Linked DNA regions of Homo sapiens. The protein of the gene in region 1 binds, or shares a complex with, the protein of each later gene. Each region holds a gene or a part of one and is shown in the gene's direction. Other genes may lie near its edges.

Region 1 (5,006 bases):
TCCTGCCTTTAGATTGTAAGAATCCCAATGCACCATTCCAGATCCGGCACAGTGACCCAGAGAGTGACTTTTATCGGTAAGGCAAGGCTTTGCTGTATCTTACTTTTCTCAAGTCATCTTCCCAACAACCCTGTTAAGCCTATAATAGCATTTCCATTTTCATGCGAGGAAACTGAGGATAAGAGTAATTGACTTGGCCAAGGTTTCTCCAGGTAATTAGTGGGATATCTAAGTTTTGAATGCCAGTCTTCAGAATTCAGGGTCTGTATTTTTTAATTTTTTGAGTGCTTACTATGTGCCAAGCACTTTACTAGGAGCAGGGTAATACACTGGTATGTAAAAAAGGCCATGGCCTCATAGTTCTTAGGATCTAGTCTTTCTATTTAATATAAAAAAAAATTATGGGTTTAGCTCGTTGTCTTCAAATTGGGATTCATGGACTTATTCTGGTATTTTTAGGAATCCGCAAGTCTACACAAGAATCTTTAAATTGTGTGTTTTCATTTTGATAACATAGTTCAAGAAATAATAATATAAGCTGAGCACAGTGGTTCATGCCTGTAACCCCAAGACTTTGGGAAGCCACGGTGGGTGGATCACTTGAGGCCAGGAGTTCAAAATCAACCTGGCCAACATGGCGAAACCCCATCTGTACTAAAAATACAAAAATTAGTCAGGTGTAGTGGCGCACATCTGTAGTCCCAGCTACTCGGGAGGCTGAGGCACGAGAATCACTTGAACCCAGGGGAGGCAGAGATTGCAGATCACTCCACTGCACTCCAGCCTGGGTGACTGAGTGAGACCCTGTCTGGAAAAAAAAAAAAAGAAATAATAATATAAAAATGTTATTGATCCCTGCTACTCAATATCTGGTCCAAGATCTGCAGCATCAACATCACCTGGCAGTTTTTTAGATATGCAGAATCTCAGGCCTCACCCAGTCCTGCTGAATCAGAATCTGCATTATAACAAGATCTCCAGGAGATTTGTATGTGCATTTAAGTTTGAGAAGCTCTGCTCCACATCCTCTGAACGTGACTGCCTTATAACCTAGAGCTGCTACTAGATGTCAGTGTGCAAGTTGTATTTAATGCCAATTACTTTTTTATTTTCATTTTGAAATTTGCCAAACCTACAGAAATGTGTAATAGTCAACAAACATCCAAATACCTTCACCATGACTCACTAATGTTTAACATTTTGCCACATTTACTTTCTCACATATGTGTGTGTATACACATATATACACACATATACAAACATACATATATGCATACTTGTATATGCACACATTTTTTCCCCCATTTTAAAGTAAGTTGCAGACATCACCATATTTCACCCCTAAATTCCTCAGCATGCATATCCTAAGAATAAGGAAATTTTCCTGCATAATCATAATACCATTACCAAAGTAAATGAACATTAAGTACCATTTAATAAGTTCATATTCACATTCTTCCAATTATCTTTTGTAAGTATATTTACAAAATATCTTTTGTAAATGTCTTTTCCCTCGAATCCAGGATCTAACAAAGATTCATGCATTGTACCTGGTTGTTATGCCTCTTTAGAGTCTTTTATGAGTTCAGGTCGCTTGTAGAATGTCCCAATTACTGGATTTGCTGATTATTTCCTCAAGATTAGATTCAGATTAAATATGTTCGGCAAGAATACTACAGAAGTGATATTATATGTTATTTATTACATCTACCTGTTGCTGGTAATACTATTTTAGTGGTTCCCAAACTAATGAGAAAAGTACAGAAATAGACTAAATACACAGGGGTTGCATTGCAGTTGGGCCAGGTGAAGGCCAGATTATATCAAGGTCCATTGTAATCAAAGGTTCTGAAGTCACTGGAATAATGAAAAGGGGAGGCATAACTGTGTTATTACATGCACAGCATATGCTAGCATAGACACGCCCAACTCAAAAAACTTGCTCTGTGGTGATCAATACTGTATTCACATATTGAGGGCAATTTAATTTCAACAATATAATGTTATCTATCATATTAAATTGATGCTGTTTATTCATTTTTAGTTTTGTATCAAATTTATATAGTAAGAGCCATGACCATCAAAAGTTTGTACCTGGTTTTATTTTATACATATTTAGGAAACTGTATAACAAAAATAATTTGCATCAGTTATGGGGGCACCAAAAAATTACTTTCCTTTGAAAGAGGTCCAGATATTATTCTAGGAAAGTGATATTGGTTTAGTTGTCTCTGTTTATTAGGTACTTATGAGGCCTTTAGCTTTTGGCCCAGAGACACTGGCCATGGAAATGATGAAGATAGTAAATGAAAAGTTACTTGGCAATTAGTTATCTTATTGTCAAACTATTATGTAAACTGCAATAGTTGCTATTGAACAGGTCAGAGTTTAGTGGGTGGATAACCACTCAGGCACTTTTGTACAGTGCGTGATGACACATGCCAAGTACGAACCAAGGAAAAATGATTTTCTGTGCTCTATTTTATTTTTATTGGTAAAATAAATTCCTTTGTCAGGGGTAGGCAGAAGCCAGTAGGAAATTTCAAGAGACAGGTAAATTATTAAAAGCTTCTTAAGTTATTTTTAGATCAAATAGCTTTCTTAATTTTTTTCTTGGAAAATTAAGATTTCTGCAGTAGTGATTAGGGGCAAAATGGTGTATTATGCAGGATACGGTTTCTGGAGTCAGAAGCTTTACCACTTACTAATTATATGTAAACAAATTTTGGCAAGTCAGCCCTTCTAAACCTGTTTCCTCTCCTGGCAAATAGAAATAATAATAATACAGACCCTACCCATTGCACAACACAGGATAGGATGAAAATGCTTTGTAAGCTATATATGTTTTAAATTGCTTTTATAAAATTGAGTTGACTTCCCTGTTTTGAAATGGTCCCTTGTAACTTTATAAGAATCTAAGAATCTTAAACTCCTGGGAACTGTGAAGAATCTCTTTATTGGAACTGTGAATTTCTAAAAGTTTGTATTAATATATTGCCCAGCATGTATGAAAACTAGGTTATGGTAAAATAATTAGAGCATCATTGAGCAGTGTCTGGGCTATACTGTTAAACTTAATCCTAAAAGTGATCAAAATTGAACAGTTGCTAGAAGGAAACTTTCTTTTCACTAGATATCCTTTTGGATTGTGTATTATAGACATGTATTGCCTATTCAAACTATGTCTTTGGAGGAGCTCAAAGATATGACCATGGGTTGCTAAGACATGCCCAGATAGCAGCAGGATGAAACTGAGCTATGTAACTTGGATGGAATTTCCCTGGAAAGCTAGGCCAGTGGCTTGACTGGAATTGTAAAACTCCTGGGGAAGACAGGAGGGGTCACCCCTTTGCAAGAACATTAATAACACCACCGTATCTCCACTTTCAGTGGGAAAGGGGAACCTGTGACTGAACTCAGCTGGCACTCCTGTCGGCAGCTCCTCTACCAGGCAGTGGCCACAATCCTGGCCCACGCGGGCTTTGACTGTGCTAATGAGAGTGTCCTGGAGACCCTAACTGATGTGGCACATGAGTATTGCCTTAAGTTTACCAAGTTGCTGCGTTTTGCTGTGGACCGGGAGGCCCGGCTGGGACAGACTCCTTTTCCTGATGTGATGGAGCAGGTATTCCATGAAGTGGGTATTGGCAGTGTGCTCTCCCTCCAGAAGTTCTGGCAGCACCGCATCAAGGACTATCACAGTTACATGCTACAGGTGAGGCGACCCTGTTGAAAAGTGGGCACAGATGTCTGTGCAATCTCGGAGTGTTCAGCAGGATCCCACAACACTTGGTCTAGAGTGCAGAGCACAGAGTCTTGGAACAGAGTGAACTTAACATACTTTTATGATGGCCCTAGCGATGTTCCTGGCCAAATACCATGGGTCTCCTTTAGTCAGTGAATGGCCACATTCACTGATACTTCCTCTGGAAGAAACTATCCACAAGTATATGGAATCTGAGAGAATGCAGTTAGTCTGATTTTATTCAACAAGTATTTATTGAGTGCCTGTTGAGAGTCGAGCATTGTGGGATTCAGCAGTTACTAAGTTACCTGAGTTTACATTGTTTTTGAAGGGAGACAAACACAAGTCAATAAATAACAATCAAAACAATTTCAGGAGCTGGGCATGATGGCACATGCCTGTAATCCCAGCTACTTGGGAAGCTGAGGTGGGAGGATTGCTTGAGGCCAGGAGTTCAAGACCAGCCTGGACAATATAGTGAGACCCCATCTCTACAGAAAATTAAAAAATAAAAATTAGCTGGACATGGTAGCTCATGCCTGTGGTCTCAGCTACTTGGGAGTGTGAGGTGGGAAGGTCACTTGAGACCAGGAAGTTAAGGCTGCTGTGAGCCATGATTGTGCCATTGCACTCCAACCTGGGTGACAGAGCAAGACCCTGTCTGAAAAAAAAAAAAAGAGAACACAGACCTACTGACAATCCTCCTGCCTCAGCCTCTCAAGCAGCTAATATAATGGTTTGACTGGAATTGTAATATATATATCTAATATAGCTGCTTGGGAGGCTGAGGTGGGAGGATTGTTTGAGGCCAGAAGTTTAAGACCAGCCTGGGCAACATAGCAAGACCCTGTCTCTAAGCACATACACAAAAAAATACAATTTTGGATAATGTTAAGTGCTATGAAAAAAACAGAGTAAAATGATATTGCCTGGAGGATGGGTTGGTGGGGGGTGATGATTTTGCTTGGAACCAGAAATATCTAATCTCTTCAGCCCTTGTGCTCTTAAGTCATTTGTTCACTGTTTCAGTTTCTGCAGGTCTAAAATATGATTAGGAATTTTTAACACCCAAGAAAAAAGTCTTTGCTAAGTGATCCAGATTTCCCACACCATTGATTATTCACCTAGGATACATATGTCAACTTTTTTTTCCCTTTTTTTAGACAGGGTTGCCTGGGCTGGAGTGCAGTGGCACAATCACAGCTCACTACAAGCGATCCTTCCACCTCAGCCTTCCAAGTAGCTGAGACCACAGATGTGA
Region 2 (5,006 bases), on another chromosome or scaffold:
TTGGGTGCACGTTGGAGCTGTGAAGTGCCAGAGACTTGTGGAGGAAGGAGGTGCCAACTGGACCTAAAAGGATGAATGGAATTAACTTGTCCCTGGGAATCCATGGACCCTCCTTGAGGAAGGCTATGACTCAAGTTGTATTTTAGCATCTAAGAACCTGGGTAACTGATTGAGAGAAGGCATCTCAGTAGTGGTGACATCGAAGTGAAGGTTTGCTGAGAGGACTCTTCTGTTAAACAGTATGTGACTGGCATGGGTGATACAGAAGTGAATCAGTATAGATGAACAAGTGAATGAGATTATGAGAAGTATATGAATAAAGTTCTAGGAGGCCAGGCACAGAAAATGAGCTGAATTTTGAAGGATGAGTAAGAGTTTACTAGGTAAAAAGAGGATGGGGAAAGACCCAGGAGCCTCTGTAGATTCTAGATCCTAATTTATTCACTAGAGGAAAGAGATATTCTGTGTTTTCCCTTCTCCCCCTCAGTGACACTTTCTGTAAATTTCAGATCCTCACCGACTGGCAGGATAAGAAAGGTGACAGACGATTCCTGAAGCTGGGTCGAGACCATGAACTTGGAGCTCCCCCCAAACATGGGAAGCCCAAGAAGCAGAAACTGGAAGGGAAGGCAGGACATGGGCCGGGCCCTGGCCCAGGACGGCCCAAATCCAAAAACCTTCAGCCCAAGATCCAGGAATATGAATTCACTGATGACCCTATCGACGTGCCACGGATCCCCAAAAATGATGCCCCCAACAGGTTCTGGGCTAGAGAACATAGAAGGGGGCCTCAAGGTTCTGGTGGTGGAGGCACTGGTGGGGCAGGGGCGCCCACTCAGGATCTGCTTCTCCCTGCAGGTTCTGGGCTTCAGTGGAGCCCTACTGTGCTGACATCACCAGCGAGGAGGTCCGCACACTTGAGGAGTTACTGAAGCCCCCAGAAGATGAGGCTGAGCATTACAAGGTAGAAACTCTGGGCCTTGATAGACATGATGCGGAACAAGAGAGTTCAGAGGTGCCTGAGAAGTAAAGCTACCAAAGCCATGCATCATCTTCCTTCCCCAACCCTGCCCAGTCTGCTGTCTGCTCCATCAGTGCCTCCAGACACCTAGGCCCAAACTCAGCTTTCTCCGTGCACTGCCTCCCCTCTACCCCAGCCAAATGTCAACACGCCCTCAAGCATCTACTTAAGTGAAGTCTGCCCATGTTCCTTTATCCCCATCCCCTCTGCTTTGGTCCAAGCCTTCATCAACTTCTATCCAAACAGCCTCTTAACTCTCTTCCTGTTTCGAGGCCTCTGGAGGAACCTTTCTTCTTTCTTTAAGATATAAAACTTGGGCTGGGAGCAGTGGCTTATGCCTGCAATCCTAGCACTTTGGGAGGCCGGGGCGGGCAGATTGCTTGAGCTCAGGAATTTGAGACCAGCCTGGGCAACATGGTGAAACCCCATCTCTACCAAAATACAAAAAATTAGCCAGGCATGGCGGTGTGCGCCTGTAGTCCCAGCTACTCGGGAGGCTGAGTCAGGAGGATCTCTTGGACCCGGGAGGTGGAAGTTGCAGTGAGCCGAGATCACGCCACTGCACTCCAGCCTGGGCAACAGAGCAAGACTCCGTCTCCAAAAAAAAAAAAAAGATATAAAAGTCACCTCACGCCTGTAATCCCAACACTTTGGGAGGCTGTGGCAGGCAGATCATCTGAGGTCAGGAGTTCAAGACCAGCCTGACCAACATGGTGAAACGCCGTCTCTACTAAAAATACAAAAATTAGCCTGGCACGGTGGCATGCACCTGTAATCCTGGCTACTCGGGAGGCTGAGCCAGGAAAATCACCTGAACTGGGGAGGCATCGGTTGCAATGAGCCAAGATCGTGCCACTGTATTCCAGCCTGGGTGACAGAAGGAGATTCCATCCATTAAAAAAAAAAAAGCCGGGTGCGGTGGCTCAAGCCTGTAATCCCAGCCCTTTGGGAGGCCGAGGCGGGCAGATCACAAGGTCAGGAGATTGAGACCATCCTGGCTAACACGGTGAAACCCCGTCTCTACTAAAAATAGAAAAAATTAGCCGGGCGTGGTGGCGGGCGCCTGTAGTCCCAGCTGCTCGGGAGGCTAAGGCAGGAGAATGGCGTGAACCCGGGAGGCGGAGCTTGCAGTGAGCTGAGATTGTGCCACTGCACTCCAGCCTGGGTGACAGAGCAAGACTCTGTCTCAAAAAAAAAAGAAGATATAAAACTATGTTTTAATGATGAAAATAAATAAAACATGCTCCATTAAAGAAAATTTAGAAAATACAGAAAAATGTTGAGGGAGAATCCTCCCATAGGTGAGCTGTCATGATCAGATGTGCTCATGACATGGCGCTGCATCCAGGCCTTTCTTCCTCCCGTTATCTACAGGATCAAGTCCACGCATCCCAGTCCTTGCTGGCACAGCTCCAGTGCCCCTCTCCATTTTCCTCGGCCATATCCCTCTTCATTGCCGTGTTGACCAGTCCCACCAAGTATCTCGCCCTCATTCCAGGACACCACAGCCTCCTCGCTGGTCTCTGGGCCTCTGGCAAGCTCTTCTCTCCCTCTTGTCTCCTTGACAGACTTGACTCACCCTTCAAGGCCCTGATCTCATGTTACCTCCACCAAAGCACTCTTTCAGATTCCCCAGCAGAAAGTTAGTCAGTCTCTCCTTTGTGCTGCCACAACACTTTGATCTCTCTCTTTCACTTCACTTATCTGATTTCTTAAAAATTTATCTGAAAAAGAGTTCATACAGACAGCAGTAAATTCAAGCAATACAAAAGGTAATTCCCTGTCACCCGTGACCTGAAGGCTCCTAATTCTCTCGAGAGGCAATTGCTGTGACCTGAGACAATCTGTGTACGTATTCTGCACCTTCTATCTTGGGAATTATTTCAGATTGGCTTCTGTGTGTGTGTCTTAGTTCTTTTTGGACCTGTCTCCCTTACTAGAGTGTGAAGTACAGGTTTTATCTTCGTTGTACTTTCTTACCTACACCTGACACTGGGCTTGGCCTTGGACTAGGGACTTGAGAGAGATATAAGATAGGTAAGTGAATGAATGAATGAAGCATGGCTGGCCAGTGCTTACCCACTCAGGGTTGGGTGCCATCTTTTCCACAGATCCCACCCCTGGGGAAGCACTACTCCCAGCGCTGGGCCCAGGAGGACCTGCTGGAGGAGCAGAAGGATGGGGCCCGGGCAGCGGCTGTGGCTGACAAGAAGAAAGGCCTCATGGGGCCACTGACCGAACTGGACACTAAAGGTAGGCCTCTCACCTCCCTGCCAACCCCAGGTCAGGACTTGAATTCCAGAACTTCAGCCCACCTCCCCTCCTTTCCTGTGCCCGCTTAGATGTGGATGCCCTGCTGAAGAAGTCTGAGGCCCAGCATGAACAGCCGGAAGATGGATGCCCCTTTGGTGCCCTGACGCAGCGCCTCCTGCAGGCCCTGGTGGAGGTGAGCAGCCTAACCCAAAAGAGGAACCATATTTACTTTGTGTTTTAATGTGTTATGCTTATTTTTTATCGGAATTTATCATACATTTATTAGGTTGGTGCAAAAATAGGTTGGTGCAAAAGTAAAAACCTGGACTAATATATAGCAAAAGATTGGGAATAATATATAACTTGTGCACCTAATAGAAAAGTGCACAGATCATAAATGTACAGTTTTCACAAATGAGCTTGTATTACCAGCCTGGAGATTACAAAATGAAACATTACTATATCCTAGAAGCCCCTCTCATGCCCCTGTTTTTCTCCAACTTTCCCCAAAGGTAGCCTTACTCCACAATTACTTTTGCTAAGCATCTGTTGGAGGGGCTTTATACACATCCTCCCACTGGAGGCCAGGACAGTGGTTAACGCTGTGTTACAGATAAGAAGATTGAGGCTCAGAAAAGGGAACTGTTCACTTGAGGTCTCACACACCAGGATTCAAACCCTAGCTTCAGGGGCCCTGTCTTTATACCTGCTGGTTGACCTTAGACACACCCTCACACTCTTTCACCTCATTGAGACTCAGTTTTCTATTCTGGCTCAAACACAAGAGTTTATCTCATGGAACAGTCTGGGTACATGTTGCAGGTTATCTAAGGTAGGGGAAGGGGCAGGTCTCTATCTCATATCATCAGACAGGGACCCCAGCTGACGGTGGCCTTGCAGTCTGCACAAGGTCACTCTGGGCGTAATTGTCACTCCAGTCCCACAGAATAAGAGCAAGGAGGCCGGGCGCGGTGGCTCACGCCTGTAATCCCAGCACTTTGGGAGGCTGAGGCGGGCGGATCACAAGGTCAGGAGATCGAGACCATCCTGGCTAACATGATGAAACCCCGTCTCTACTAAAAATACAAAAAAATTAGCCGGGCATAGTGGCAGGCGCCTGTAGTCCCAACTACTTGGGAGGCTGAGGCAGGAGAATGGCATGAACCCAGGAGGCGGAGCTTGCAGTAAGCCGAAATTGTGCCACTGCACTCCACAGCCTGGGTGACAAAGTGAGACTCCATCTCAAAAAAAAAAAACAAAACAAAACAAGGAGGAGTGTGTGAAGGAAACTTTTTGGCCCATGCCTAGCTATGGCTCTTATCTCTTCTGATCACTTTCCCCTGGAGAGAACTTGTCACATGACCATACCCGCCTGCAAGAGAGCCTGGGAAGTACAACTGGACAGGCATTGCCTAGCTGCCGTGGAGGAAAGAAGAGTATGGCATTCGGACAGCTAGCATCTCCGCCACAGCAGGCCTAGCACACTGCCTGGTGCGTTGCAGACGCTTCACAAACCTTAGCTGTTCATTACCATCATTGAGTGTTAATCATTTCTCTTCTGTGTTCCTTTTTCTTCACATCAGTACGAAAATAAAAGGGATTTCTAGAATGATCAAAGCAATTTGGGATTGGTATGGGAAGGCTTCCCACGGTAGGTGGGATGGGAAAGATAAAAGGATATTTCTGGTGTTTGAAGACTGTCAGTGTAGGTCAGAAAGGAGCAGGAAAGTGG

The links. The genes of interacting proteins can lie anywhere in the genome.
Region 2: SUPT7L (region 1) and TADA3 share a complex: the UniProt entries of both Homo sapiens proteins name them as parts of the STAGA transcription coactivator-HAT complex.

Annotation. Positions count from the first base shown.
Region 1 is NC_000002.12:27,656,054-27,661,059, reverse strand, and holds part of SUPT7L (STAGA complex 65 subunit gamma), read left to right. Parts: coding exon 1-76; intron 77-3,390; coding exon 3,391-3,715; intron 3,716-5,006.
Region 2 is NC_000003.12:9,785,467-9,790,472, reverse strand, and holds part of TADA3 (transcriptional adapter 3), read left to right. Parts: exon of another isoform or gene 1-509; coding exon 510-760; exon of another isoform or gene 761-858; coding exon 859-964; exon of another isoform or gene 965-2,668; coding exon of another isoform or gene 2,669-2,745; intron 2,746-3,132; coding exon 3,133-3,274; intron 3,275-3,363; coding exon 3,364-3,467; intron 3,468-5,006. UniProt on the Homo sapiens protein: Functions as a component of the PCAF complex. The PCAF complex is capable of efficiently acetylating histones in a nucleosomal context. The PCAF complex could be considered as the human version of the yeast SAGA complex.